Regions from separate parts of the Homo sapiens genome. Here all the other regions are linked to region 3. The links come from fine-mapping of genetic effects on gene expression. A gene starts in region 3. Each other region holds a variant in brackets. All regions are shown on one strand. Distances are between the middles of the regions.

The links. PIP is the estimated chance that this variant, and not a neighbour inherited with it, causes the effect.
Region 1: its variant is fine-mapped to the expression of EDEM3 in whole blood (INTERVAL, PIP 0.93).
Region 2: its variant is fine-mapped to the expression of EDEM3 in whole blood (INTERVAL, PIP above 0.99). The same link has a PIP of 0.9 or more in fibroblasts and lung.

What each region holds. Positions count from the first base shown.
Region 1 is chr1:184,709,041-184,719,259 of GRCh38, reverse strand. EDEM3 (ER degradation enhancing alpha-mannosidase like protein 3) reads left to right here. Exons shown (of 20, transcript NM_025191.4): 11 at 15-98; 12 at 1,637-1,720; 13 at 2,248-2,372; 14 at 6,662-6,827; 15 at 7,383-7,537; 16 at 8,713-8,866. Among named protein-coding and RNA genes, the nearest start is that of EDEM3, 41 kb to the left of the region's middle. The variant A/G (reference allele first, on the strand shown) is at 6,592.
Region 2 is chr1:184,697,028-184,707,246 of GRCh38, reverse strand. It overlaps EDEM3 (ER degradation enhancing alpha-mannosidase like protein 3), which reads left to right. Exons shown (of 20, transcript NM_025191.4): 18 at 439-604; 19 at 4,251-4,436. Among named protein-coding and RNA genes, the nearest start is that of EDEM3, 53 kb to the left of the region's middle. The variant C/T (reference allele first, on the strand shown) is at 4,283.
Region 3 is chr1:184,750,219-184,760,437 of GRCh38, reverse strand. It overlaps EDEM3 (ER degradation enhancing alpha-mannosidase like protein 3), which reads left to right and starts at 5,580. Exons shown (of 20, transcript NM_025191.4): 1 at 5,580-5,949. The coding sequence starts at 5,792. LOC105371649 (a long non-coding RNA gene) reads right to left here and starts at 5,264. Exons shown (of 3, transcript XR_922357.4): 1 at 4,905-5,264; 2 at 2,339-2,414. RefSeq lists enhancers at 5,327-5,426, 5,897-5,996.

The DNA.
Region 1 (10,219 bases), 41 kb after region 3:
TTGTTGATTTCTAGGTGTTAAAGGGGGATATTAGACCTGCTATTGAAACTCATGAAATGTTATATCAGGTGATTAAAAAACACAATTTTCTACCAGAGGTAAGCAAATAATTTTTGGAATAATCTTACACACACACAAACACACACACACACACACGTACACATATACACTATAAGTTGCTAATATAAAGGTAGAAAATGTCATCTTCAAGGCTTGTTGGTTCTTTTTATTTTTTTCCTATTAAATAGTTTATTTTTGGTTTGTACAGTATTATATATGTTTTTGCTTTTCTTTGTGTGTTAAGAGAAGTCTGATTTAGGGTAATGCTGACATTTTTAAAATTTTATGTAAAAAAATTCCCAGCTTAGTTCTTCTCAACTCTTCCTAACTTATGCCATTGTAATATTCTCTCATTCTAACTCTTGTATGTACCTACCAGCTAGGGAGATTTTGTCACTTTTTATTTTCTAAAGCTTGTCTTATGAAAACAGTATATATTAGATATACTTTTGTTGTTCACACATGCCCTCTGGAAATGTATAGAATGCCATCTCTTCCTCATGCTGATTGAGAATTATTCTTCCTGATTTTTATACATCATATTAGTAATAAATATTCTTGCTAGCTTAATATGACAAGATTTTAATAGCATACTTTTTGGCTTCCCAGAAATGTACCGTTAAAAATTTCCAAATGTGTGTATGGCCTTGTTCTATCCCCGCTTATTGACTACCCTCTGTGAGATATCTAAGCATTCTACCAACTTAGAAGGGTTCCTAAAGTGTTTGTTTTGGAAAGTATAGTTTTATTAGCCTTCGGGTGAGTAGGACTGTGCATTGTAGAAAATTCATATCCATACAGAATAAACTGAGGTTTCAATTAATACATCTATCACAAATGAAATTTTTATTTAGCTCCCATAAAAGTTTTTGTTTGCTTTTATTTTTATTTTCTTTTAAAAACCAATTGATTATGTTATTGAATAAATTTCAAATAGACTAATTTTATTTATTTCTAAATAATGCTCTGTCTTATTCCACAAAGGATTTGAGGCTTTTAGAAAATATAAGCTAAAATATGAAATATGTATGCTTACACATTGCTAAGAGAGATTTTAAGTATTCTCACCACAAAAAAAGAGAACTATGTGAGATAATGCATATGTTAATTAGCTTGATTTAGCCATTTCATAGTGTATAAATATATCAAAACATCATGTCATATACCATAAATATATGTCACTTTTATTTGTCGATTTAAAAAATTTAAAAATAAATATGAGAACTAGGAGAGTAATAATCCAGAGGAAAAAGTAGAGGGAAGGATAAAAAGAAAACACAATTATGTTTACCACCAGGACCCATGTAGTGGCATTGCTGAGTTTCATTATGGAGTTTTTCTGAGTTTTCTAATAGCCAGAATGATCACTGAAAAAATAATCAATTTAATTGGTAAAAATAGCAGCCTTTGCAAAATGAATTGTTATTTTAAGCAATGAAAATTGATGTTTTATTGATGAAAATGTCCTGATTGCTATTTTAATTGCTTTTACCTATTTATATATATTCTATATATTCTGGAACTACTTGTGTATTTAATCACATTTTTTATGCCTTTTGTATGTTGTTTTGTTCAGGCATTTACCACAGATTTCAGAGTACACTGGGCTCAACATCCTTTAAGGCCAGAATTTGCAGAAAGTACCTACTTCTTATATAAAGTAAGAAAATATACCCCATTTTACTTAAAGTTTAGCCTCCATTCTCTGTTGGATCTCTCATTCTTTCATAATAGTAATTGGGTTTTCAGAGTCCCCTTTTAATATTATAATGATTGGATATATCATGATTCTTATTCATCTAGTCCATAGAATTATTGAATGATGCAAGAATTGACATGCAAGGTTTTTTTCTTTAAAAAATATTATGTAAACATTTCTTTAAAGAGAAATTTTATGTTCTAGAGCTGCTTTCTAAAGCATGTCTCTTGCCTTTCTTCAGGCAGCCTTTCTGAGCATTAGAAATTTAAAAACTAAGGTTATATAGTTAAATTTTATAATTGTGTATTTAAGAAATTCTGTAAAGCAGATTCATAGCTTTTTTTCAGAACTCAGTTCTATATAATGTCCTTCAGTGCCTGATACAGTGCCTGGCACCTAGTAGGTACTCAATAAATATTTGGTAAATGAATGGATATGTGGTAATATATAAGCTATATATATTATACATATATTCTCCTTTTTAATAGGCTACAGGAGATCCTTACTACCTTGAAGTAGGGAAGACACTTATTGAAAATTTAAATAAATATGCTAGAGTGCCTTGCGGATTTGCTGCCATGAAGGATGTTCGTACTGGAAGTCATGAGGACAGGTAAAACAATTGCTAACATCCTCTTTCCTCAGGGTCTCTCTGAAACAACACAAAATGCAGCTACCATTTAGGATTCAAATAAGTTTAATTCTTTTACAAAGGATAGAAACCTTTGTTCCTTGTGTTTACTTTTTTAAACTCTGTTGAATACACTAATTTTAATTTGTTTGAAAAGTTTGTATTTTTATCATAGTGCCTGGCATATAGTAGGTGCTCAAATGATTTTTAAATAAATGAATCGATGATTGTTAAATATCAGAACCTTGGTGTTAGGACTATCTAAAATGTGGCTTTTTTTCTTCTTTGATAATAGTTTCCTTTTATATTACATAAGACATTAGAAATTACCAAGATGAGGAATGATCTGGAATGTGATTTGTGTTCGGCCAAGAATTCCTCAAAAGCTGTGTGTACTTACACCGTTGCTGACTTGCAGGAGTGGGAAAGACCAGTGGTAGTTTCTGTTTCATTAGACACTGGATAGATGTAGATGGTATGAAGTATTCAAGCTATAAAAAGTGCTCCACATGAAATTCACAAGCATTCTCCTTATTCTAAGATCACTTATCTGGTTATCACATCTCTAAATGAATGCTGAAGCTTATTTGTTCATTTGGTTAGCAAATGTTCATTCCAGAAATATTTACTGAGGCCCCTTATGTGCCAGGGCTCTTACTAGTTTTTGAGGATTAAAGATATGAAGATAAGTCCTTTCTGTCTTTGAATCACTGAAGGCAGGCCAATAAGCAGACTTTTAAAACATTGTATATGTGTTTGAAACATATTAAAGGGGCATGAAGCACAAGTTGGGATGTGATAGTCAGCGAAGGGTTCCTGAAGGCTCCTATGTCCTGAAGGATAACCAAGAATTAGAAGAAGAAAGATGTAAAAGAAGTTCCAGGCAGTGAGACTGAAGACATGAGAAACACAGCACTCATCATCTACCCATAGAGTTGTCCCTTAGTTCTTCACTTAGTGTTCGGATAATGGTTAATTAGGCTTCGAATCTCCATCCCTAACCACAGCTAATGAGAAATGGTTAGGTTCTGGAAGCAGGCATACAAGTAATAGCAAGAAATAAAAGCAGATACCTTGTGTATTTATTTGCCTGTAACATTTATTGACTGTTTCCTATACTCCAGACAGTCTTCTAAGCATTTTATGTGTTTAACTAATTTGATCCTTACAACAGCTTTCTGAAGTGTACTATTACAGTCTTCATTTTAAAGGTGAAGAAACCAAGGGAAAGAGAAGTTAGGGAACTTGCCTAAGGTCACACAGTTAGTAAGATTAAGTCAGAATTCTAATCTAGGCAGATTGGCTCTTGACAATGATGTTATACTGGCAATTCATTAAAGAACAATAATTAAACACCTACTGTATGCCAGCCACTGCACTTAAGTGTGGGGTAGAAAGATAAAATAGAACCAGTCCCTGCACTCCCATGACTTGTAGTTAGTGAATAAGATAGGTGTGTAAAGAAATAATCACAACCATGTGATATGTTCTAAAATACAAAAGAGGTAACAAGTTGAAGAATTGCAGAGGAAGACATGATTTACTGTTCAGAATTCTATTTTTCAAAGTGTAACATCCTTCTTTTTTTCCCCACCAAATACTCCTTTTATGACATTGTTTCTGGACCTCTTACCACTGACATTGCCCCATTCTGATTGCATTCCAGTATATATAATAACTCTTAAAATATCACATCCAGAATTAACCATACTCAAGATGTGTCTGGCACACAGCACCATAACTGTCTGTATTCAGGCAAAGGGTCACTAATGTTCTATGAGGCTGATGAGTTTCCACCCTCTATCCAGTTGAGGACCACTGCTTCATTGACTCACTGTTCCTGAGGGGATTGTTGTGCCTCTCAGATGTCTTTAGCCAAATGAAAGGTTAAGAACTACCATTCTTCATCATATTGTGTTATTAGATGTGCTTTAGATTTTTTAGGAGCTTTATTATGTTCAGCTCACAGTGAGCTTGTGATCAACTAGTTTCACATACTTAACTGTATGGTCTGCTGACAAATGAGTGTTCTCCACCCTGCCTTTGAGCAGCCAAGTTTTCTTTTTTTTAGTGTAAACTTAGAACTTTTATATTTAACTCAGCAAAATTTCTTTTTTTGTTTTGTTTCTAGATTTTGGTCTAGAGGTTGAATCTCATTAGCTAAACTACCAGTTTTCAATGATCTATAGTTTAGATGAGCATACCTTACATTTTTTTCATCCAAACTGTTAGGAAGAAGTTTTGGTTGGACCCCAACCAGTGCCTTGTGGCACTGCACTCAAGAGCTTTCAGTTACAGGCTCTTTGCATGTGGTGGTTTATTACCCTATAGATCTAAGCACTATCACTGTCCTCCAGGTTACCATCATCTACACAGACACAGACATACACACACACTTTTCACAATGGAAATATCTGTATTTTCCTAATCATAATTACTGAAAAGAATGTAAATGGCAAAAATAATAGGAAAATATTTGCTAAGACACTGTCCCCTAACTGCGTAAGATTACCACTGTTAGCAATTTTATAAAGGCTTCCAGACATTTTTAATGCCTGTGTATTTTTATTTATGTATTTTTATGATTTTAAAATATAAAATAGATCATATGATCTGATGTTCAACTTGCTAGCTTTGCCCAATTCATATTGTAGTTATCTTACCATGCCTTGTTCTTTTCTAAATGTTTACAAATTGTCTATTCTAGTATTTGCCAATTATCAGTATCCTGCTCATCTGTCTGCAGTTCTCAAGATAGCATTTGCTCATGTAATAACTGTCAGTCCATCAGAAAAGGTTGAATTATGATAAGTGTATTGCAGATAAACAGGAAAGTGTTTTTATATTGTCTAAAAAGATTAATATCCAAAATGGCTAAACATGTTTTGAAACATTTCAGGTGAGTTTTTGTTCCAAAATAAAAAATCATGTGTATGTAGGAAAAATGATAGCTGTAGTTTCAATCTCATATGTATGCCAAGTGCTATGCTAAATAATTGACATTTAATATCTCAGTCTTCACACCAATGTCATGAGTGTATTGTTATATTCCTTTTACAGAAGAATAAACTGAAGCTCATAGTCCTTATATAATATCCCCATGGTGACAGAACTAATTAGTGGAAGATCTTTCTATTTCCAAAGCCCATGTTCTTTACTTCTTTGTTCTACTCCCTCTCCAGCTCATTCTTTAATCACGCTGTTTAAACTTGCATTTAATTTAGTAAACATTTATTGAGTGCCTACTGTGTGCCAGGAATTGTGCTTGGCCAGAGGTATGAAATTGTGCAACTTGTCCAGTAAACTAGAAGTTGTTTATTACTGCCAAAACCTATGATGCTTTGGGGAGTAGTGAATTAAATTTGATGTTACTATGACTCCATCTACCAGCTATGCTTTTTTCCTGACACTTTTAATTTAAACTTTTCTTAAATTGTTAAAACATTATAACATTAAATCATTTGTAAAAACACATATAGTTTTACTGTCTTTATTTCTCCACATTCCCTTCTTAACAGGTAAATAAATATTTAGCATGTTATAATCATAGCCCGTGTGACTTTGCATTGTACTTTTTTCATGTAACTATTTTTTTCTTTTTTTGAGTCGGAGTCTTGCTCTGTCACCCAGGCTGGAGTGCAGTGACACTGCACTCGGCTCACTGCAATCTCCATCTCCTGGGTTCAAGTGATTCTCCTGCTGCAGCCTCCTGAGTAGCTGGTATTACAGGTGCCTGGCACGACACCCGGCTAATTTTTGTATTTTTAGTAGAGACGGGGTTTCACCATGTTGGCCAGGAAATTACATGCAAGTAATTTCTTTACATTTAAAGCCTTCTTTTTAAATCACTTAAATAGCTACATAATAAATTCCGTCAAATTTGTATGACTTTTTCCAGCTCTCTAATTTAATGGAAGATTCTTATATGATTCTCACTAGTAAAATTTATCAGTTACCTCCCTGCTGTTGATTCTCTATAGAAGAAATGGAGAACTTTCCCTCATTGAAAGGCCTATAGAAAAATCTTGTCTGCATTATTCACAAGATTCAGTGTATCAGTGTGGTAGACAACTCCTCTGGTCTTTTTCATTAACATAGAATATACTTGGAGTCAAGGTTATTCTGCCCCTGGTAGATTGATACATTCTATAGTTCTTTGAACATCTAAGTTGGTATAGACAGGATTATTAACCTTGACTCT[A/G]TGGCTTTCATATAGTTGGCATTTAAATTATTTTTATCTACTTATATTTATTTGTGACTTTTTATTTTAGAATGGATTCTTTCTTCTTGGCTGAAATGTTTAAATATCTTTACCTGTTATTTGCTGATAAAGAAGACATTATTTTTGACATAGAAGATTACATCTTTACAACAGAAGCTCATCTGTTACCTCTTTGGCTCTCTACTACAAATCAAAGCATCTCTAAAAAGAACACAGTGAGTTTTTAAATGAAATGTCTTATTCTCTTTTTTATTTCTACATGTTTTATTTTTCCAAGTGAAAAGTAATCCATGAGTAGAATTCAATAAATATATGTATGGTAAGAATAAATATATACATTTTCCTATTTTTTTTCTTTTATTGCATCCTGTATACACTTATATATTTCATTAACTGTTTCCTTTTAAAAATTATGTTGAGTAGGCCAGGTGCGGTGGCTCATGCCTGTAGTCCCAGCACTCTGGGAGGCCCAGGTAGGTGGATCACAAGGTCAGGAGATTGAGACCATCCTGGCTAACATGGTGAAACCCCGTCTCTACTAAATATACAAAAAATTAGCTGGGCGTGGTAGTGGGCGCCTGTAGTCCCAGCTACTCGGAAGGCTGAGGCAGGAGAATGGCATGAACCCAGGAGATGGAGCTTACAGTGAGCAGAGATTACGCCACTGCACTGCAGCCTGGGCAACAGAGTGAGACTCCATTTCAAAAAAAAAAAAATTATGTTAAGTAAAATAATTATTTCTGTTTACATAAAATGTTTTTCTCTTGTAGACCTCGGAATATACAGAACTGGATGACAGTAACTTCGATTGGACTTGTCCAAATACTCAGATCCTCTTTCCTAATGACCCATTGTATGCTCAAAGTATTCGTGAGCCCTTGAAAAATGTGGTGGATAAGAGCTGTCCTAGAGGCATCATCAGAGTGTAAGATGTATTATTTTATATTTTCTAATATCAAAGTTGTTTCTTAGTAAATGACAGAGAACTTAGGGAGCATGTATCAACAGCCAAGAAGACATTCACATAGGCCGAAAATGTTGAGGTATGTAGCTATCACTGGTTAAAATAAAAATTAGTAGTAAAGTTAGATAGTAAAGCTTATTTTGCAGTAATATCTTTTTTATTATTTTGGAAACTTTCAATATATCTTTTATTTTATGAACTAAGGTAATAATAGTGGGCAGCATGTAACAGTTTTTAACTTCTATAACTCATTTTTCATGGAATAGTTTCATCGAATATTTTCTGGCCAGGCATGATAGCTCACGCCTGTAATCTGAGGACACTGGGAGGCCAAGGCAGGTGGATCACCTGAGGTCAGGAGTTCGAGACCAGCCTGGCCAATATAGTGAAACTCTGTCTGTACTAAAAATACAAAAAATTAGCCAGGCATGGTGGCAGGCACCTGTAATCCCAGCTACTCGGGAAGCTGAGGCAGTAGAATCGCTTGAACCCAGGAGGTGGAGGTTGCGGTGAGCCAAGATCACGCCATTGCACTCCAGTCTGGGTGACAAGAGCGAAACTCCATCTCAAAAAAAAAAAATTTCCTTTTGTCTATAGTTTCTGTGTAGTGAAAATACAGGTATTTTGTTTGTTTGTTTGGATTTGATTTTTTGAGGGAGTACTTATTCTTGCTTGTTAAAATTGGCTTAATGAGTTCATTTTCTGACGAGTAGTTATATTAGGCCATTGCAAGGACTTTTTAAAAATTATTTTTACATAAGTGTTATTATTCACTGATGCAAGTATTGATTTGCTTTTAAAATATTGGGAGAAAAATCTGTGTTTTTAAAGGATAACATCAATAGTAACAAATCCCCAAGCAAACTTGTTCTGTACCTTTAAATAGTTATAGTTCTCTTGACTAATACTGCCTTATATAGATAATATACAAACTTTTATAACTAGAAAATGTTATATTTGAAAGCTATACCACTTGTTAACCTAAATTATATGTAAGAAAATACTTTCTAGTTATTCCAGTTTCACTAGTTCTAAAACTAGCAATTTTGCAAGTAACATTATTTTTATTTGACATGTGTTTTTTGCCAATTCTAATTTATAGTTTTTTAAGCCTTGCCTGTAATTACTTTTAGCAGAGAGGAGAGTTTCAGGAGTGGAGCTAAACCCCCTCTGAGAGCCAGAGATTTCATGGCCACTAACCCTGAGCATTTAGAAATCCTGAAGAAGATGGGGGTGAGTTTGATTCACCTCAAAGATGGGAGAGTCCAGTTGGTCCAACATGCAATCCAAGTAAGACATTGCTACACTAATTAGATACCGTCTCTGCCCTGCTTTCTTTGGTCGCATTAGCTTTAATAAGATAATGGATTTCAACTTTCTAAACACTTTAAATATACTGTTTAAAGTGAGAGAATGAGAATTTTAGGACTTGGAAGTATCTTGGAAAGTCACCTAATTCAACTCCTTTATAGTATAAATCAATTAAATAAATCAGAGCTAGGTTGGGTAATTTGCTGAAGTTAATATAATCAAATGCAGGACTCAAATCTAAGTTTTCTGTTTCTCAGTCCATTGGCTTTCCCCTGTTACTTTTATTTACAACATAACTTCAAAAACTAGTAATTAGTTTTAATATTCATATCTCCATGTTTTACATCATTTTAGTCTCCAAAGAGCTACTGAATCTTAAGTATTTTGTTCATCATAGGTATTTATTTGTCTGTGCCTAGGAAAAATAACATGTCTTTTTGAGAAATTTTTATTGATTTTTACTTTGAAAGTTTTTATAACACAAAGTTTTTAAATTATTTACCTTATTAGTATATTGATTCTGAGAAAACCACATAGTTTGCTGAATAATTTTTAACCTAGAACCATATTCAGGTATCCTTTAATCTCAAATTCAACCCTCCCACAACTTCATCACACCCTCAAGTTTTCATCTCATCCATATTCTTGCCACATCCTTCCTTCTTTTAAGAGTATTCTTCCTTCTTCCTTGTATTTTATTTGGCCTCAGTGGGAGTGACATCTCTTGTGACATTGCTTTTACTTACTTAGGCTGCCAATGGCATAATTACTGCCAAGTGGCCTCTTGATCCTTATATGATTTAACTTTTCTGTAACTATTGGCTGAACCCTTCATAAAACATTTTCCCTTTTTGGCTTCCCAGGATATTTCAGAAACAAAGTTCTTTTTCTACTTCACTGTTTATTGCTTTGTAGCTCTCCTTGGCACAACCACTCAATGTAAACAGTTTCCAAGAATCTGGATGATATTCTTTTCTCTATATACTCTTCTTCAACAGTGTCACCTATTTCTACAAGCTTAGCTATCATTTTTATACATATGACTTCTTAGCTATGTATGTGAATCCTGATTCCTAAATTTACTATTAAATTCAACTTTCATCTACCTCTCATACATCTTGCATCTCAATCTCAATCTGTCCAAACTTGAATTATCTCTTTCTTGTTTACTCTCTTTCTACCCTCACCTCAACCTATGTTTCCTTCTTTGGCTCTCCATGTCAGTAAAACCTATCATCATTCTTTAAGTCATCAAAGCTGGAAATTTCAGGATAGGTTTGAACTCTTCTTCTCTTCCAGTTCCTCTTATCCTTTTCCATCCTCTAACTTCTA
Region 2 (10,219 bases), 53 kb after region 3:
CTTTTCTTGTTACCAATGATCATTTCAAATTAGTTCCCAGCTATTGTAAATGTAGTGAATCTGCCTGCAGGTCCCAACTTTACTGCTTAGTAACATCGTGTTAACATTGTGAGCAAATTACGTAACCTGAGTCTCAATTTCCCCATATGTGAAAGGGAAATGTTATTTGTATTGTTTTGCTCAGGGTCATTATAAATAACAGATTTTGTAGTTTATATAAAAATGTTCTATAAACTGCAAAGCACACTAGAAATATTGGTTGAGTACTGTGATATGCAAAATGTTTAAAACAATATTTTATGGTGACTATATGTTAGATACGTTATCATTAGAAAAGAAATGAGTTCTAGTTCTTTTAAAACTCTAGATATTGAGGTTTAATGACTTGATTGCCATTTGAGAAGATTAAAGTATTTAAGTTGCTTTTATTTCTGACAGACAAGAGGATTTGTTGCAAGCAGTAAACCATCCAATGGTTGTTCAGAGCTTACTAACCCAGAGGCAGTGATGGGAAAAATCGCACTGATACAAAGAGGACAGTGCATGTTTGCAGAAAAGGCACGCAACATCCAGAATGCTGGAGCCATTGGTGGCATTGTTATTGGTAAGTAATCATCCATGTCATTGTGTTGACTGAAGGGGAGATAATTTTTAGGATTTTTTCCCTTTTATTTTCTAAAATTTTATCAAAGAGTTTGTCATAGTTTTTTTTACCTCACCTAGACAACAAGGATAGGTAATCCAATGACTTTTAATTTCTAGATATCTAACATCTTTTTTAAAAGTCTAGATTTGAATTTCTGTATATTAATGTCAGTGAAAATACTTGGGTTTAGGTGTGAGGGTGAGGTAGGGCTGAGTAGTAAAAAAATTCAGTACCATGGATAAGAAAAGGTGCCCATGAGATCCATAACCCCCGAAGGGCAAGAATTACACTGTGCCACGTCCAGTGGGGAGCCATTGAAAATTTCCATTACTCCACAAAGATGCAGGCTTTGGAGGCAGACACATGAGAGTACAGTTCCTGGCTCTACCACAAAATTGCAGTGTAACCTTGGCCTAGCTTCAGTTTTTTAATCTGTAGATTAAATAGTATAATTTTTTTTTATTTGATAGTAGAATATTTTTGAGCTCCAGTGGAAGTGATAATAAATATATTTTAGGTGATTGTAAGGTTTAAAGATATATAAAATTTCTTGGCATAATAGCAGACATAGGATAAGTGCTACTATAACAGGGTTTACAGTATTGCTAGCAGATCTTTATCCCCTTGGATCTTTTTCTACCGAAATGACAAGTTACCACCTTTAAATCATCTTACCTATATGTATCAACTAGTGGGTTTTGCTTTTTTATCTTTCATAGACAATCACTTATATCATGATAAACAGGCCATGACTATTAGGGGAAATATAAATTTTTCTGTTTTAAAGTAAATAGGAGTTTACATTCAGAAAGAACTGTAAGACCTGGGCTCACAATATGCTGATTGTGAGTTCTTTTGTACAGCTTCTCTCACAGGGAAATCCATTTTGGATTCCCCCCTCCCCTGCCGCCCAATAGTTAAGGTAAATAAAAAAAAATAGTTCAGGTAAAACAGAATATTAACACTTATTATGTTGATTTAATGGATGCATAAATTTTATTAATAAACATTAGGAGAAGTCCTGTTTAATGACTTAAATCAGCAGTTGGCAAACTACAAGACTATAGGCCAAATCCAGCTCATTGCCCATTTTTGTAAATAAAAGTTTTATTGGGACACAGTCATGCCAATTTGTTTGTGTATGGTCTATGACTGCTTTGAACTGCAGTGATGGAGTTGAGTACTTACAGGAGAGAACTACAAAGCCTGAAATATTTATTCATCATCTAGCCAGTTACAGAAGAGATTTGCCGACCCCTGACTTAAATCATGCTCTTTATCCTTGGGTATTTCCCACACTTAGATTAGTTTTATTGCAGAATTTATTATATTAACCATCACTATCATTTTGAACAGTTCTTACCAAGACTTCAAAATGAAAATGTAAAGTATAAAGTGTAGAATTTATGCATTAATGTTTAAAAATATTTCTTTGTGTAGTATTTTGGTTTTTTATATTTTTCAGTGAAGTCTAATTCTCATGATCTTCTATAGTATGCAATAATTGTCAATTTTTGTTTTGTTTGTTTTGAGATGGTGTCTTGCTCTGTCACCCAGGTTGGAATGCAGTGGCGTGATCTTGGCTCACTGCAACCTCCATCTCTCAGGTTCAAGCAATTCTCCCTGCCTCAGTCTCCCGAGTAGCTGGGATTACAGGTGCCTGCCACCACGCCTGGCTAATTTTTATATATATTTTTTTCTTTTTAGTAGAGATGGGGTTTCTCCATGTTGGCCAGGCTGGTCTTGAACGCCTGACCTCAGGTGTTCTGCCTGCCTTGGCCTCCCACAGTGCTGGGATTACAGTCATGAGCCACCAAGCCTGGCCCGTCAAATGTTTTTTTTGGTAGCTATTAGTTGGAAAATGGTATACTGGGTTCTGTGGATAAATAAATAAGAGATGATGATCCTTACTCTCAGAAATTTTTTTTTTTTTTTTTTTTTTTTTTTTTTTGAGACAGAGTCTTGCTTTGTCACCCAGGCTAGAGTGCAGTGGCATGATCTTGGCTCACTACAACCTCCACCTCTAGGTTTAAGTAGGTCTTATGCCTCAGCCTCCTGAGTAGCTGGGATTACAGGCACGTGCCACCAAGCCTGGCTAATTTTTGTATTTTTAGTAGAGAAGGGGTTTCGCTGTGTTGGCCAAGTTGGTCTCAAACTCATGGCCTCAAGTGGTCTGCCTTGGCCTCCAAAAGTGCTGGGATTACAGCCATGAGCCACCGCACCCAGCCAAAAATTTAATTTTTAATGAGAAACTTTCTTGTGTTGACTTCTTTCTCCTGAGTTTTTTGTTTCTGACAAAGCATTTTGTTTTTGTTTTAATTGTATATAAATGAATAAATTAGGAATTAGCTGTTTTTTGTTGCAAGGGTTAGAAATACGAATTATCTTAGAAATCATGTGGCTGCAGGAGATAATTACGTTGGTTTAAGAAGGGAGGTTTTTTCACTACACAGAAATGGATTATTTTTAGTGAATTAAACAGTACAAATACAACTAGGATTCACCAGGAGGTAGAAGTGGGAACTAAAAATCACCAGGATCCATGATAGTGAATGTTTTTCACTTTTCTCTCTGTATCTCTACCTCTGGGTCCTTCTGAACTTTTCTTCCCTGCTTCTCTTTGCAATTCTGCTTCATTTTCCAGCTTCTCACCAGCCTTCTCTCTCTTTGTTCCTCAGTTCCAAAATGGCCATTCTAGTTTGCAGCCTCAGCCCCTAAGTCTGTGTCATTCAACTGGACTATTACCCCCTGCTAACTGAAACAGTCTTTCTGTGTGCCAGTTCCAGGTCCCCCAGAGAGACTCAGGGTCAGGTAGCCATCTTTTGTCTAATCAATTATTACCAAGAGGATGGGTCATGCATTCTGCACTTAGCAGGTCCTATGAGAGTGAGCACCCTGAGACAGGACAGATAGTTTCTTCTGGGAGACTGGCATGCGATTTGGAGGTGGTCGTGATTGTCGTCTTCAGTAAAACAGCATGTTGCTGGTACTACTACTATTAATAGTTCTACTACTATTATTTAACCAATGCAAAATAGCAATACTGTTTAGTTTAGCTTATAGAGGAAGAAGCACTATAGTCATAACTATTCTTTGTGTGCATTATATAAAAAAGAAATGTCCATTTTTAGTTTGGTAAAACAATGTAATCATGCCAGTAGTGGAAATTTTCAACAATAAAATTCATTCATAGTTCTATCACTGTAATCCGAGTCATTGATTTTTTCCTTTCTAGGCTTTTCCATAAGCATATGAAATTTTTATAGTCATAATCATAGAATTCTGTATTCTACTTTTTAAATGTATTATTATTCTGTGTGTCCTATCAAGTAGGTCATTATAATTTACTTATAATGGTGTACAGTTGTTTACAATTATAAATAGTCTAGTAAAATTATTTGGGCATAGGGCTTTTCGCTACTTTTGAATTATTTCCTTTGGATACGTTTCTATGAGAATTAATGGGTCCAAAAATTATGTTGGTTTTTATGGTTCTTGATGCATAAAATTAATTCTGTCATTGTAAAAAATCAGTAACAATTAGTAGATAGATCTTTTTAATGGCTGGATATTTTGATGTTTGCTGTATTTATTTTCTGGCTAGATGACAATGAGGGGAGCAGCAGTGATACTGCC[C/T]CTCTGTTCCAGATGGCAGGTGATGGAAAGGATACAGATGACATCAAGATCCCCATGCTGTTCTTATTCAGCAAAGAAGGAAGTATCATACTGGATGCCATCCGGGAATATGAGGAGGTAGAAGTGCTCCTCTCTGATAAAGCAAAAGATCGAGGTAAGAGTAAAATACCATTTGTTTTTTTATGCAGCGTAATATTAATTTTGCTAGTTTGATAACAAGAATGAGTCACAAAAAATTGTTTTGGGGGGTTCACTGTGAAAACAAGTAAAACTTTTAGAAGATGATTTCAAAATATATTTTTCTTTTGGAAATAAGAATAATAAAACATTTATTTTGCTTTGTTTTCTGAGTTAGGATGTTTTTAGACATATGTTTTTATGTGTGATTTGTAATTTTTGCCCTGAGTCTGTTCAGGTGATAAAAATACAAGAGACTGCTTCAGGAAAGCCATTTTAACATCCGGAAATGTTCACAATTTGATTTCACTGATACTACATCTTACATGTCTTTTATAAGGAATGAGAAGACATATATAGAATGTTGTATACAATATCATAGTAGTTAGTCTCAACAGGCCACCTATAATCAAATGACTGCTGTCTTGGTGAAGGCAATAGAAATCTAGCAGCTTCTTCCCAATGAGATCTAAGTTTATCACATGGATATAAGAGTTACAAATGGCTGTTTCTGAAAAACAAGATAGCATGTCTTAATTTATGAGAGTAGATAGTCCTCTGTAGGCCAAAATGTTTGTTAGTAATTTGAAATGTCTTTGAAACCCAAATTACAATATAAATGCAAGGCCTTACTAGTATTCTTACATAGTTTCACACCCAGGGATAGAGGAGAAATGAGGGAATGTGAGCCTTCAGATCTTGCTTGTGGTAGCAGTCTTTCCTGTCTGCTGGAGAGACCTGAAGAGAGAGCTAAAGTTCTCCCATACCCTTAAATAGATGAAGTTGCATAATAGTACAGGGTTGTTACATCCCCTGGGGTGTTTGACAGATATGTAGGAAACTGATTCAATTCAATGTGACTTCCAAGTGGGACATTTAAAAAAAAATGTTCGGTGATAATCATGCTAGCATAATCATGCTAGCCTAATTTTGTCTTCTTGTATTGCTTTATTCTTCTTTGAGATTCTTTGAAATGTCAATTATTTATGAGCAATGGAGTGAGCAAGTAGGTTGTTTGTATATAACAATGTATAGATGGAAACAGAACAGAATACAAAGGTTTTCTAGTCTTAAATCCTCTGTATACCTGATTTTTTTTTCCTGGGCCCTTTTCTAAACTCAGATCTTCTTGCCTACATATATGCATTTAGGCACATCTAACATAGGCAAATTATTATTTCTTGTAACTCTTTAATGCATTTGCTTTTTTTCCCCCTATTTTGTGCTACCACTGGAATTTCAGCAGCAATATTAAAAGGTAAAATGATTCCAAGCTACATTATTAATAGTAGTAAGTATCTTGCATTAACAAGCCTTAAATTATATACGTATATATGTATTTGGGTGTGTGTACACACACTCAAGTACATATATAATTTTGTTTCAGTGGATACCATGATAATATCTTGTGTAACGTAATTAGATTATTTTCATGTCTAGTCAGCAGTCACATAATAATTTTAAATTCTAATAATTATACATCCCATACAATAGATGAATTCTATGTCTATGTCCATACAAGAGTCACTCTAACAAAGGCATTGTTGTTTTAGTATTTATTACTTTGATCACATTTTATTTGAACACAATGTAAAATATTTAAAGTATTGACTTGTTTTAAAAGCTCATGTGTGTGTATGGTACATGGGTTAGGACTACAGGATTATGGTACAGCATGTGCTTCCTGTACCAGAGAAAGGTTATGAGACATGATTAATTCTACCAGAAAATAAGAATTCTTGGTGAACAGTATCCCCTTAAGGACCTTGCATTAAAAGGGCATTATTTAAAAGATATTTTTTGAAAACTTTAGTCTATAAATTTATTGAACTGTGATTGTTATAGAGTGATCTTTTGATAAAAGTATTGAAAAGCCCCCTTTTTGTGTAATAGCTCTTTATAGAACTGTACAGCTATATTAATTAGCAACAAGATACAGTCTAATTGTTAATATTTATTAATGTAACAGAAATCAATGGTAATAGTGTTATGAAATCAACAAATGTATTCACTTAGGATATCCTAAGAAGCTACACAGTCTGTAGCGGTTATCATTTGTCCTATACCATTACTACATACATCAGTGTTTCTCCCCTGCATCAGAATCAACAGATACACTTGTTAGAAGTGTTGGCTTCTGAGTCCTGCTCCAAATATTCAATCAGACTTTCTGATTCAGACTTTATGATTGGGAATCAGAATCTGAAACTTCAAACAAACATCCCGGGTGATTGTGTTGTAGCTGCTTCCTCAGCTACACTTTGAGAAATATTGAACAAGATTCAGAAAGCACCCCTTTTTTGTCTCCCAGCTATGTATCAGGCCATATTGTACCATTACAGGTACTAGTTAACAGATTATATAAGTACACTAAGTAACAACATCCTTAAAATCTGAACAATAAAATGTTCTCCAGATTGCCTTTTCTAGAAATGTCATTCCACAAATACGTATTTTTCCATATGAAGTCACACAATGCTGATTAAGAAGTCCTTTTCATATTTAATACAGAAAATAGAAGCCCTTAAAAAGCCTTCACTCCTGTCTTCTTCTTCTGATAAGTCCATGCCATTAGTATAGATGTATCTGAAACTGTTCTGCTAGCAGAAATTTTCTGGTCATCTTAATACACATTTAGAAGCCAAAAAGCATTAGCATTTTATCAAGTGATGTTGCTTCCTTAGGTCAAACCTGTGACACTTCTGAAAGTTAAGCTATCCACAGTCTATTGTTGAACAGAATTTTCAATATCATATCTCTCAGTGTTTCATTTTTCCAAAATTTCAGTTTGTAAAGGTACTTAATTATTCCAACCGTGTGCCCACAAACAAAAGGCAATGTTTTGTTACCTTTAGGTCCAAATTGAAGCAGTTTACAATTAAGAGTAAATTTCCTTTTTTCAATAGTATTTGTCACAGGGAAAAAAACATCAGCATTTTTAAGTTCCAATTCATTGTCATGCTTGCAGCTTAGAGTGTAAGCCTATAGTGCCTTAAGGGCTCTAGACAAATGCTTTCAAGCAACTGTATTTGTCTCTATCTGGTAAAGAGCCAGACAGAGAAAATGGAGGAAAGAAAAAAAAAGGTTCCATCATTTGCAATGCTCTGATTTAAGTCAGGCAGGGTCACTTTTCCTGATTATCCCCCACTGAATTTGATTGGTGTGAATCTGTTCTACAGCTGAACTGCACACCTTAAGTTGCTGTTGGAAAGGATTTGATTCCTAGGAGAAAAATCTAGTACATATGCAGATGAACTCTACCTGGAGAGAAACATCTGAAACATTCTTCTTAGCAGAATTGATACTTAACCTTCCCTTCTCCATCCAAGACATGTTTTCTCATGCATTTTCACATTTGCGCCATCTCTTCCCTTTTTCTGGAAGTTCCCTATCAATCCCTTTTCCTCTCCCATGGCCCTTTTCCTCTTTGAGAACATTTAGATATCCTAAATTTCAAATGCCACCTCCTAGGTAAAATTTAAGGGTGTCCTTTTAATACAGTTCTACTATGATAGTTAAATAGTTCTTTACCTGCTTCTCATCTCTATATTCCTTGCTTTCAGTAAACATTTAATGTACAGATGAATGAATGAATGAATGAATGAATGGTTCTAAAACATCCAATCTCTAAGTCTTTGCCAAGGTTCACTTCCTCTTTTATTATTAAAACATACTGATTTTGTTTCTCTGTATTTTGAGATTTTCTCCATTCTTTCTGTGTTTCTGATGTACCATTCCTGAATTTAATATTGTGGTTGTTATGCTCTTACGACTTTGATCTCACATACTGGTGAAAACAGGCACCTTAGGATCAAGATTTGTAGCAATGTGGCAGACTTTAACTCTTCTATCTTTTTGTAGTTCTCTAACTGCCATTTTTACTTTCCTGATTGTTGCTTTTATTTCTGGTTCTATAGCTCCTTCAGCTTGCGAAAACCAAAATATTTTCTTCCATGGGCATCTTCTTCAAAGTTCTTCTCTCTGTCTCTCTCTCTCTGTCTCTGTCTCTCTCTCTGCTTCTCTACATTTAAATTTAGTTGGCCCCTGGTGACTTTCCTATAGTGCTGCATAGAATAGTTATTGGTATCTTTTTAAAAACTTTATAAAATTAAACTTGTAACAAATTAAACAATCCAGAAGTGTATTAAAAACTTTTAAATAATCTCTCATCTTTCTGAGATAACCAACCAATGTTAGCAGTTTGATGTGTAATCTTTTATATTCTTCTTAGTGCTTTATACATTTCTAAATATATGTATCATTCAGTAACTTGCCTTTTACAGTTAAAGCTATATTAAAGACATTCCTCCAAGTTAGTAGGATAGCATAACTTATTCTTTTGAAAGCTGCATTATGTTTTGCATTATCACTGTACCATAATTTATTTAACCATGTCACTATTAGGCGTCCAAATTATTTCCAGGTTTTTGTTTTGCCACTGTATACAATGGTGTAGGTAACATTCTCGTACATATCTTCTTAGATATGCATACTTTTTCTAGAATATTGAGATTTACTAAAATGAAATGCTGGCAGAAAGTATATGGGTCGTTTTCATTTTAATGGATGTTGCAAGTTGCATTCCAAAAAAGGTTGTAGCAATTCACATCCTTTCCAGCAAGATATGAGAGTACATGTTTCTTCCTATTTTAGTCAGCATATTTCCCTTTATAGGTATATTTTTTGTTTTTTCTCTTTATGGATTGCCTAGTCATATGTTTTGCATTTTGCCTTCTTTAAATAAGATTCTGTGTCTTTTCTAGATATTTTATAGGACCTCTCTGTTTGTGTGTGTGCGCATTTCCTATATTTACATACATACTCATAAAGAAATAGAGGTTCTATAAATTATCTAGAAAAGACACACATATAGGGACAGAGGTTACACACACACACACACAATTTTCCCAACATGTCATCTTTTCACTTTGTTTATGTAACTTTCATAACATTTTTAGGTAATCAGAAATATTAATTCCTTTGAGGCTCCTGGGTCTTCTGTCTCACTTCAGAAGATCACTCCATCCTGTTTTTACATAATATTTTCCTAAATTCTTCTGGCATTTTTACCATTTTTTACATTTTGGTCTCTAAATCATATGGAATTTTAAAATAAAAGTTAGGAGTCTTTCCAATTGAGTTGTCAGTTACTAAATACCATTTATGAAGCAAACCACTCATTTCTCCTTCAGTTAAACTACCATCTTTGCTATATATCAAATATTCTTGCATAGTTGGATCTGCTTCTAGACTTACCCTTCTCTTCTACTAATGTGTTTATTCCTTTGCCAATAATAAAAGTTTGCTGTTTTGAGTATATTTTATTATCTGATAGGGCAACTCTCCCCTCACTGATTCTTAGAATTTCTTGGCTTCTCTTTGACATATGCTGTTCCATAGAAACTTTAAATTAATTGTATCTGGTTCTAAAACGAAAACAAGAAGTACAAATGAGATTCATTTTGAAATTATATAATTGCATACTTTACATATAAATTAGGAAAATGTTAAATATTAAGACTTCATTTAAGAATATACCTATAAATTTAATCAAATCTTGTTTTATGTTCTCATTATGATTTTATTTAAGCAACGTGGGTCTTATACCTTTTATAATAAATTTAATTCTATGTTTTGTAGCTTTTTATTATGAAAAGGTTTAATGATTATATTTTAACTATTTATTGTTACTACAAAGGAGTTATTGGTATTTGCATAGTCTTCTTACCAAATTTTTTTTATCAATTCTAATAGTATTTT
Region 3 (10,219 bases):
TTTATTGAGTTCCTTCAAACTGTACTAAATATTTTACACACACCATCTCATTATCTTCACAACATCCCTAAAAGGAAGGCATAACAATTAAACCATTTAATCTTTCTAAAAATGCTGTGAGGTAGGTATTATTCTTATTCTCATTTTACAAATGAGGAAACAAAAGCACAGAGATTTAGTCATTTGCTTAAGGAAGCCCAGCCAATAATCAGCAGAGCTGTCTCAGAGCCATTGTTCTTGGCCTGAATGGTACCTGTGCAACTGTTGTTGAATGGTGCTCACCTAAATCCTGTGGCCACACTGTACCAATAAGTGGGAACTATGCTGATGGTGAAATGGGGATTTAAGAGAGGGAACAAACACAAAATGTACTCCCTCGAAGAGCCATGTGACTTGGTTTTGCTTCTGATACTTGAAGTAAATGGAAAATGGCCACTAAATAAGTGACCCAACCAAATAATCATGACACATGAGCAAACTTTCTTGCCTGAGAGAGTTGGAGCTAGTGCCAGTGAGAGAAATGGGATAATAATCTGAAGGTGAAGTGATTTTGAAGATCTCAAATCAAGATGGAGAGGTGGAAAAAGCCCTGGGGACATCTTTTGGGGAGGTGAATCATCTGAATCTCTCATTCTCTTTCTTAGAATTTGAAAAAATCAGTCCGACAGCCACGCAGGAAGTCAGTTGACGACATTCACCGAGTATCTTTGTCATGAGGTGCTCTTTCTAAGGCCTCAAAGTCACTAATTGTGAATGCAGAATAATTACTGTCTTTATTTAATGTTTGCAAGATTGGGTTCTCTAGAAGAAAACTGTTGTCAATTCTGCATGCTATCAAAGAATAGGAAAAGCAATTTGAAGAATGACAAAATCACCACTCCCAAATTCCATACTAGTTTCAGGAGTAATTAGAACTGTAGTACTAAAGAATTCAAATCATTTAGGGGCAACTGCTGTTCTATGACCAGTTTTGCACAGCTGGTCCCAGCTTCCTAGGACTATTTCTGAGCCATAATATTAAAATGGAGCCCCTCCCTGTGTTTTTGAATCCATATGGTTCTACCCAGGGCTCCTATCCCTCCCTAACTTCTGACACATCCAAGCAGGAAAGTGAGCATGCATATTTACATAAGCTACAAGGCTGTGCAAACAGATTGTTAACTGGTTAAAGGGCATTTTAGAAATGGCTGTTATTTCTTACCATTTTTAATGGGTTTTATACATAAAAAATCTTTATATCTTTAAAAGTTCTATCCTTATTCTTCTGATGTGCTTTCCACCAGTCTTTTTCCCTCTGTACAACACTAGACTCTCTCAATTAACTCGTACATCCTTTTTATCACTAAGTGTATAGGTTTTAAAATAACGTAAGTGAATTTTTCCTAGTGTTCATAAAGTGCCAATTAGCTGAGAATTTCCATTATTTTCATTACGGGGTTAAATACGTTTTGTTCTGTTTTGTTTTGTTTTTGTTTTTGTTTTTTTTTTGAGACAGGGTTTTGCTCTTGTCACCCAGACTAGAGTGCAATGACATGATCTTGGCTCACTGCAACCTCCGCCTCCTGGGTTCAAGCGATTCTCCTGCCTCAGCCTCCCAAGTAGCTGGGATTACAGAAGCCTGCCACCACACCCGGCTAATTTTTGTATTTTTAGTACAGACAGGGTTTCATGATGTTGGCCAGGCTAGTTTCGAACTCCTGACTTCAGGTGATCCGCCCACCTCGGCCTCCCAAAGTGCTGGGATTACAGGTGTGAGCCACTGCACCCAGCAAAAAAAAAAAGTGTTCTTTTTTGAAATGCATTTTGCGAATATATTTTTCTTTTATTTCCATGGGCTCCACCTTTGATAAGTTTTAGAGCTTTTAGGTCACACTAGATTTTCTACTTAAGGTTGCTGAGATCAGTGAAAAATAGACTCAATCATTGGCTAGAAATTGAGTTTCAACAAGGGAAAAAAAGATACTTATTATTTAGCAGTTCGAAAAAGAATTATGTTCTGGCTTCCCATTATAATCTTTAAATATGCAGCGTTAACTTGAAAACAAACAAATATGCTAGAAAATGTTAAACATTAAAAGCCAGTACTTCTTCTTTAGTATGTTCTTAATGATAGTTCATAGTCAATTTTGACTTCTTATAAAGGGTTGGAACATCAGGAAGGTAAAGAAAACTGTGTTATTGTTAATAATCCACTTCAAATTATTGACTTGACTATATTTCCATATAACTGAATGTCACTGTTTTTCTATTTTATTTGTTCTTAGTTTTCAAATACCATATGATTGGTGTTGACCTTTAGTTTGTAATGTTCTCTATGCAAGAGCCAAGACCAACTCACATGTATTGATTTAGCTAACTTCATTACCAAGGCTGCCAAAGAGGATCCAGGATGAAACCAATGTTGGATTGCAGATCTGTCCAAAGAAAGGATAATATTAAATATTGTACAGAAGTGACCTCATGTGTTTTCATAGCATCTATGTAAGTAGATAAAAGGACTATATTATTCCCACTTTTTAGATAAGGAAACTGAAGGAATACAAAAACAAGTATATTCAACATTTACTGAGCATCTACAGCAGGAGAGGCACAGTGCTAGGTGTTTCAGAATATCCTTATGCTATAATTTGAGTGTGTCCCTCAGAATATCTGTGTTGGAAATGTGGTCCCTGGTATGGTGATCTGGGGAGATGGGGCCTTTAAGAGGTGATTAAGAGGGATTAATGCTGCTCTCTCCGGTCTGGGTTACTTCTTGCTAGAGTGGGTTCTTATTCTCTCAGGACTGGATTAGTCACCGCCAGAATGGGTTGTTATGCAGAGAGGCTGCCCCTCGTGTTTCACCTCTTTCACACGTGCCTGCTTTTCCACCATGTCATGATGCAGCACGAGGCACTCGTCAGAAGCCAACCAGATGCCGGTGCCGGGTTTTTGGATTTCCCAGTCCAGAATCGTAAGAAATAAATTACTTTTCTTTATAAATTACCCACTTTCAGGTATTCCATTATAGCAACAGAGAACGGACTAAGACAACCTACAAATAAGCTAAAGTCAATACTTTTCATGTGGTTAAAATGTAGTGGGTATGCAGACTATGAAAAACACAATAACAAAGACACAGAATACCATGGAGGCACAGAGAGAGGATAACTTCTGCTAACTAGAAGGTTCTGGAAGGGTTTTGTGGAAATGGAATCTGAGCCCAGCCTTAACAGGTGTTGAGTGTTGTACAAAGATGATGGGGTAGCATAGGAGATGGTGTGAGCAAAGGCATGGAAAGGATACAGAATAGGAATTATTTAGTTATCACATAGGATTTGAGGGCAGGGCAGACTAGAAGGAAGAAAGAAGGTATTCAGAGGGTTTGCAGATGTTCTTGAATACCAATTCTGACAGCCATGTATAGAGGAGAGTAGGGCAGCAGGGAGATAATCGGTAACTTCAACATTAATGCTGCCAAAGAGGACTAGGATGGAACCAATGTAGGATTGGAGATCCATGCAAAAAAATAAAGGATATTAAATATTGTACAGAAATGACTTCATGTGTTTTCACAGCATCCACGTTAGTAGATAAAAGCAAGGATCCCCAAGCCTGGGGCAGTGGACTGGTACCAGTCAGTTGCCTCTCAGGAGCAGCAGGCGAGCAAGCATTACCACCTGAGCTCCACCTCCTGTCAGATCAACTGCGTCAGAGTCTCATAGGAGCATGAACCCTATTGTGCACTGCACATGCGAGGGATCTAGGTTGCACGCTCCTTATGAGAATCTAATACCTGAAGATCTGAGATGGAACGGTGTCTCCCCCACCCTGTGGAAAAATTGCCTTCCACAAAAGTGGTCCCTGGTGCCAAAAAAGTTGGGGACTACTGGATAAAAGGACCATATTATTCCCACTTTATAGATAAGAAAACTGCAGGAATAAGGAAGCAAGTATATTTAACATTTATTGAGACACTGCAATAGTTTAGGAGAGAGGTAATGGAAGCTTGAATGGAGCAAAAGTGGGAATAGAAAGAAAGGTAATAATCTGAAAGATAGAAGAGGTAAAATCTATATAATTTGGTAATTAATTGCACGTGGACCCCGAAGGCTAAAGATGAGTTGACAATGATTCCGATGCATTAATTTGAATCAGAAAACATCTTACGTTTGAGCTACCCTTGGGCTAGACATTAGGACATTTCTATTAGGGAGGTGGAAATGTGGGTCTAATGATCAGGACAGATATTGATTTAGAAATCAACCACAGAGATATGTTGGCTGAATCCTTATGAGAAGAAATCACCAAGGAATAATTAGAGTACAGAGAGAAAAAGGACAAAAAGAAAACCTTAAGGGAACACCTGTATTTTAATATAAAGTAGCGAGAGAATGAAGGAAAACGGGTCAGCCAGAGAAGAGGTAAGAGGTTAAGAGGTAAGAGGTAAGGTGATAAAAGTCAAGGAAGAAACGTTTCCAGAAAGACCGCCGAATACTGCTTAAAGGACACGTAAGTAATTTACTGTGGTCACAGAGATCACATCGAAGCTCCTAAACTCCGCACCTATTGAATGACCACACTAGAAAAACAATGTGGTTTTTCAAGAGGAACCGATGTGTCATTTTACCAATAGTTAACCTGGGACTCGGTCATCAAAATTCATTGCAAGTTCCAATCTCCTTCATTAAACCTTCTTTGCAGCCCACACAGCTCTCCTTACATTGAGCTTTTGAGGTAACTATTATTAATCATGTACGAGGACCCACGTGCTCCTTCATCCTTGTAGTACTGCGCGGTGGTTAAATGCAAGGGCTTCCGAATCAGAGGCTGGATGGATTCTAATACAGCAGTGTGACGAGCTCTTGTTAACCAACTTTTCTAAGCCTCTGTTTTCTCGTCTGCAAAAGGGGGATGGTGGTACTTACTCTATCAGAGTTGAGAAGAGTGCATGAGATGATTGCGAGTAAAAACCTTAGCGCAATGCCTTCAAAGGCTCAATTCATTTTGCTGTTACTGTGTTTTGGAATTTCCCTGAGGGTAGACGACTACTCCAACACTATTCCCTAACGCAGCAGCACTGACATGGGGACAGTGCGCCTCATTCAGCCAGCTCTCTGGGAAACAACTTTCTGAGGAAGAGAGATAAACAGCTGACGGGTTTCCCGGGACTCCGCAGCCCACCGAGACAGGGTTGACTGTAGGGCGCCGAGGAAAGGGGGAGGTGGGATCCCAGCAACCACTGGCGACCTCGGAGGACCGCAAGTCCCAGGGTGCAGCGCGCCTACCCCGGGTAGAAGCGAGAGACACGGCTCCGAGTCGGCTCGCGGGAGAGCCGGGGAAGAAGCAGTGCACACTGGGACTGGTAGTCCTCAGGGGGCAACTCCGCGGGTCGGAGGCGGGTCGAAGCGAGAGATCCCTTCCCAGTCCCGCCTTTTGTCCACGTCTCACTTCTCCTGGCCAATGCCCTCTCCAGTCGCCGGAGACAGCCCCTCTCCCATGAGGTCTCCATTGGTCCTGAGGCTCTACGGCTTCGGCCCTACCCGGAAGTAACGTTGGGGAGGCGGTTTCCTAGACTACGACACCGGAAAGCTGGGGGAGGCGCTCCGGGATACTGAGGGCGGAGGGCGGTGGCAGCGCTGGCGCTGGGGACCGGCTTGGTGGCTTCGGGAAACAGTTTGGCGCCGGCGGCCGTCCGTGTTACTCCGCATCCCGCCCCGTCTCGGCACGGCTAGCAGCCCCCTGGCCACCAGCGTCCAGCAATGTGTCTCACCGGCCGGGCGTAGCAGCTGCGCGTGCGCGGAACCGCGGGGCCATGAGCGAAGCCGGCGGCCGGGGCTGTGGGTCCCCGGTTCCCCAGCGAGCGCGATGGAGACTAGTGGCGGCGACGGCCGCGTTCTGCCTGGTGTCGGCCACCTCCGTGTGGACGGCGGGGGCCGAGCCCATGAGTAGGGAGGAGAAACAGAAGCTTGGGTAAGGGTGCTGGCAGCCTGGGGTGGGTTTCTCGGTGAGGCTGACAACAGGAGGGGTGCCTGTCATTGCGACCCGGTCGCGTAGTGGCCTCTCCTGTCGCGATTGGAACGGCTCTTCCCGCGCGAGAACCCTAGAGGGGTGGACAGGGTCCGGGGAGGTGGGAACCGCCGCCCGCGACCTGACCTCGGGGGAGCTGACGGGGTGTCGCCCTGGCCGCCGGTGACATGTGCAGGCTCCTTGAAGCCAGGCGCGGTGTGTCAACGCGGCTGCCATGTCAGTGGCCCAAGAAGGGGGCTACAGCCCGCATCGCTGCGCGCTGGAGTTCTGCGGTTGGCTGCCTGTCGACCGAAGCATGGTTAGCTTTCTCGCGCAAGTGAGCTTCCAACTGGGAAAATGTTGCTGATCTCACAGTAGTTAAGGAAATGATGTTTACACCTGTTACGGAAAAGGGGGCGTTCATTGGAACTTGAACTTTACACATTTTACTATTTCCTTGCAGTGTTTTCTTGCACTGTATTTTCATAATAGAATGTTTGGGGGGAAATTATTCAAAAGTCTCAAGTATACCTATTCAGTAGTTTTTATCCGTCTTGGAAGTGTGTTAAAATTATCAATTCTATTTACACCATTTAATTCAGAGTAATACATACACGAGGTCCTACACATGAATAAGAAAAAAGCGAAGAACCAGTAGGAAATGGGAGAAAGGCATGAACGGTTAAGCCAGAAGAGGAAATGGAAGTGGTAAATAAACATGAAAAGTTACTCAACCTCCATAAACGTAGGAGATGCAGATTAAAACGAGGAGCTAGCTGGTTTTTGCCCATCAGATTAGTAAATATAATACAAAACACAAGGATACGGTTCTGGTTAGTTAAGGAATAGAAAAAAAAGGCTTAGTGAGAGTGTAAATTGCTGTAACTTATTGGTAGTATCTACTAAAATTTAAATTGTGCACACTTTGATTCATCAGTTCTATTTCTGAGAATCTACCCTAAGAAAATAAAAGCACTCTTAATGCAGAGATAGATCCAGCCTGGGCAACAAGAGCGAAACTCTGTCTCGAAAAAAAAAAAAAAAAGTGCATTTTGAAAGAACAGCTCTTCCTTGGAGGAAATGGTTCAATAGGGTACGTTCATATTATGGAATAATATTGAGACATTAAGAAGAAGGAAGTACGTCACTGGAAGCCTATCCAGAATATATTTCCAAAACAAAAAAAAATGCAAGTTGTAGAATAATATGTATAGTATCATCCCATGTTTTTTTTAAAAAAGAAAAAAAAAATCTGAGCTCAGAAAAAAAGTGGAACGAAGATTATCTCATGGGGTTAGGCTGGAGGGGTGGTGGAACCATCAGGTCTTACTTTATGTACTTTAAATCATTGCAAAGAGTCTTGTATTCGTTTCTAAATAGCAATAAAGGTCACTTGATGGAAAAAAGCTGAAGTATCAACCATCAAAATAAAATTACCGGTAAACTCTAATAAATATCTTACATTTTCTCTCATATGAATTTAATGTATCATTGATAAGTTTTACCAAATATCTCACTCTGTGAATACTTTACATATGTTATCTCTGTACTCCTTCCTATTTCCCAATGAATATGATCCACATTTGCAAATGAGGAAGTTGAGACCCAAGGTTGACTTGTTCAGCCACAAAGCTAGTAATTGGTAGAGCCAGCATTCAAACCCAAGCCTGTCTGATCCCAGAGCCAGGCTCTCTCCAGTATGTTGCACGTTCATTAGACTTGGAAGAGAAGTATCAAGTCTGTTAAGAACCACAAGAATCTTATTTGACTATCACTACCCTTTCTTCATTTTTTATTAAAAACTTATTTGTAAAAGAGTCATTGGATAAATCATTTTTGACCAAAATTAGTTTTTAACTGGAAAAGTTCAACCAAATTGGCTTGAAATTTCAGCTCAAATTTTGAGATCATTTATGAAAGTGAAATTACAATTATTTAGGCTTGTTAGATTGCTCTACCCTTGAGTAAGGGTAGGGTAAGAATCTAGAGCTATAAACGACAAATACACAATTATATGACTGCTTTCTCTGGGAATTTTCAGAAAACTGAACTTTGATTCATTAGGTTTACCTGTGCATTTTTTAAAGCCCAAATAATGATTCATGATAAAAAGCAGAAAATGCCCCACCCCTTTCCCTCCCCACCAACAAACCAAATAGTTGATAAAGACTGGAATTGTCATGAATAGTAAGCAATTGCTCAATAACTTACACTTTGTGGAATTACTTAGCTGGTTATATGTAGTCTTATCCTTCATGGAATAAGCTTTTTGGTTTTGTTTTTAAAATTTTGCAACAGGGTATTTTGTTAATGTTATGTTTTCATTAAAAAATGAAGTAGAAAACAATCCAGTTTCTATAGCACGTGGGCAGGAGACGTAACTTTAGAAAAAGCCGACTTGGCCTGGCATGGTGGCTCATGCCTGTAATCCCAGCACTTTGGGAGGCTGAGGCGGGCGAATCACCTGAGGTCGGGAGTTCGAGACCAGCCTGACCAACATGGAGAAACCCCTTCTCTACTAAAAACACAAAATTAGCCAGGTGTGGTGGCGCATGCCCTTAATCCCAGCTACTCGGGAGGCTGAGGCAGGAAGAATCGCTTGAACCTGGAGGCGAAGGTTGCAGCGAGCAGAGATCGTGCCATTGCACTCCAGCCCGGGCAACAAGAGCAAAACTCTGTCTCAAAAAAAGAGAAAAAGCCGACTTACAGAAATTACTGAAGAGTGGTGTAATTTTTGAACTGGGTCTGATTTCCAATACATTTTAATCCAGTTTTTGAATAGATAAAACATTATGGAAATTTTTTTTTCTGTTCAGTATAGTAATTATTATACCATTCTGTATTTAAATGTGACTTTGTTAGGCTTCTATGTGTAAGAGCAATGATATTAAATAGCTCCACTTTGAAATATGTGTTCTAAAATTTGCTCATCATATGCTGCATAAATGTAAGGATTGGAAAATAGTGTATTCTCCTTGTATGCAATCATGATTTACTTACAGTCTTGAAAATTGAATGCTTGTAAAGTTGAGTTAGCAAGTTAAAGCTTATGTCATTTGTAATATACATGTCTAGGCACTACCATTGCCAATTATAGGAATTTCTACTTCTTGGTAATAATCTCGTATTCCATTTCAGGGAAGGAAAAAAAAGAGGACTTCCATCTTCCATTCATTGATATGAGTTCCTGAAAGGGACATTTTAAACTTTTTTTTTTCTGCTTAGGACAGGATAAGAGTCTAGAGCTGTAAACCACAAATATAAAAATTATATATATATAAACATATATATATATGTAAACTTACAAAGAATTAGTGCTTTAGCAAAGTGGTGGTAAGGTCTTTTTTTAAATAATGAAATGTTTTTAAGTGGTTATTATTCATATGTTGTCAGGACTTAATTCGTTCACAAGTTTGAGTGTACTTGATTTTGTTGGTGTTCATAGTCAGGATCTGGAACTGAGGTCTTTTCTGTTTGCTAGCTCTATTATTACCAGTATTTCATAATCTGTGATTATAGTTTTAAAAATGACAATTGCAGTATAACAGGAGGCAAATAAAAATATAGTCAGCAATTTCTTTAACACTTTTTTCAATTCTTGCCATCAGTGATTGGAACTTTGGTAAAAGAAAAGTTAATAGGCCGGGCGTGGTAACTCACACCTGTAATCCCAGCACTTTGGGAGGCTGAGGCGGGTGGATCACATGAGGTCAGGAGTTCGAGACCAGCCTGGCCAACGTGGTAAAACCCTGTCTCTACTGAAAATGCAAAAATTAGCCAGGCATGGTGGCAGACGCCTGTAATCCCAGCTACTCGGGAGGCTGAGGCAGGAGAATCGCTTGAACCTGGGAGGTGAAGGTTGCAGTGAGCTGAGATCGTGCCACTGCACTCTAGCCTAGGTGTGACAGAGTGAGACCCTGTCTCAAAAAAAAAAGAAAAAGTTAATAAAAAATTGTTAAGCTGTGTTTTCCTTTGCTAATTATTTGGCCTTGTCTGGTCATACAATTAACTTGTACTTTTTCCTGTAGTCCTCAAGTCCCTGAACTTGAGAGTGCTTAATTGAAAGGCTGCTTCCTCAGTCGCAACCTTACAGGTTTTGATTTAGTAAAATTCTGGTGTAGTGATCAGACATCTCCATTTTAAACAGTGGTTACGGAGATTTTGTGAAACAGAATTCGCCAAAACACACAACTCTCTTTTTGAGCATTAGTTTTCTCATTTTGGAAGTGAATAC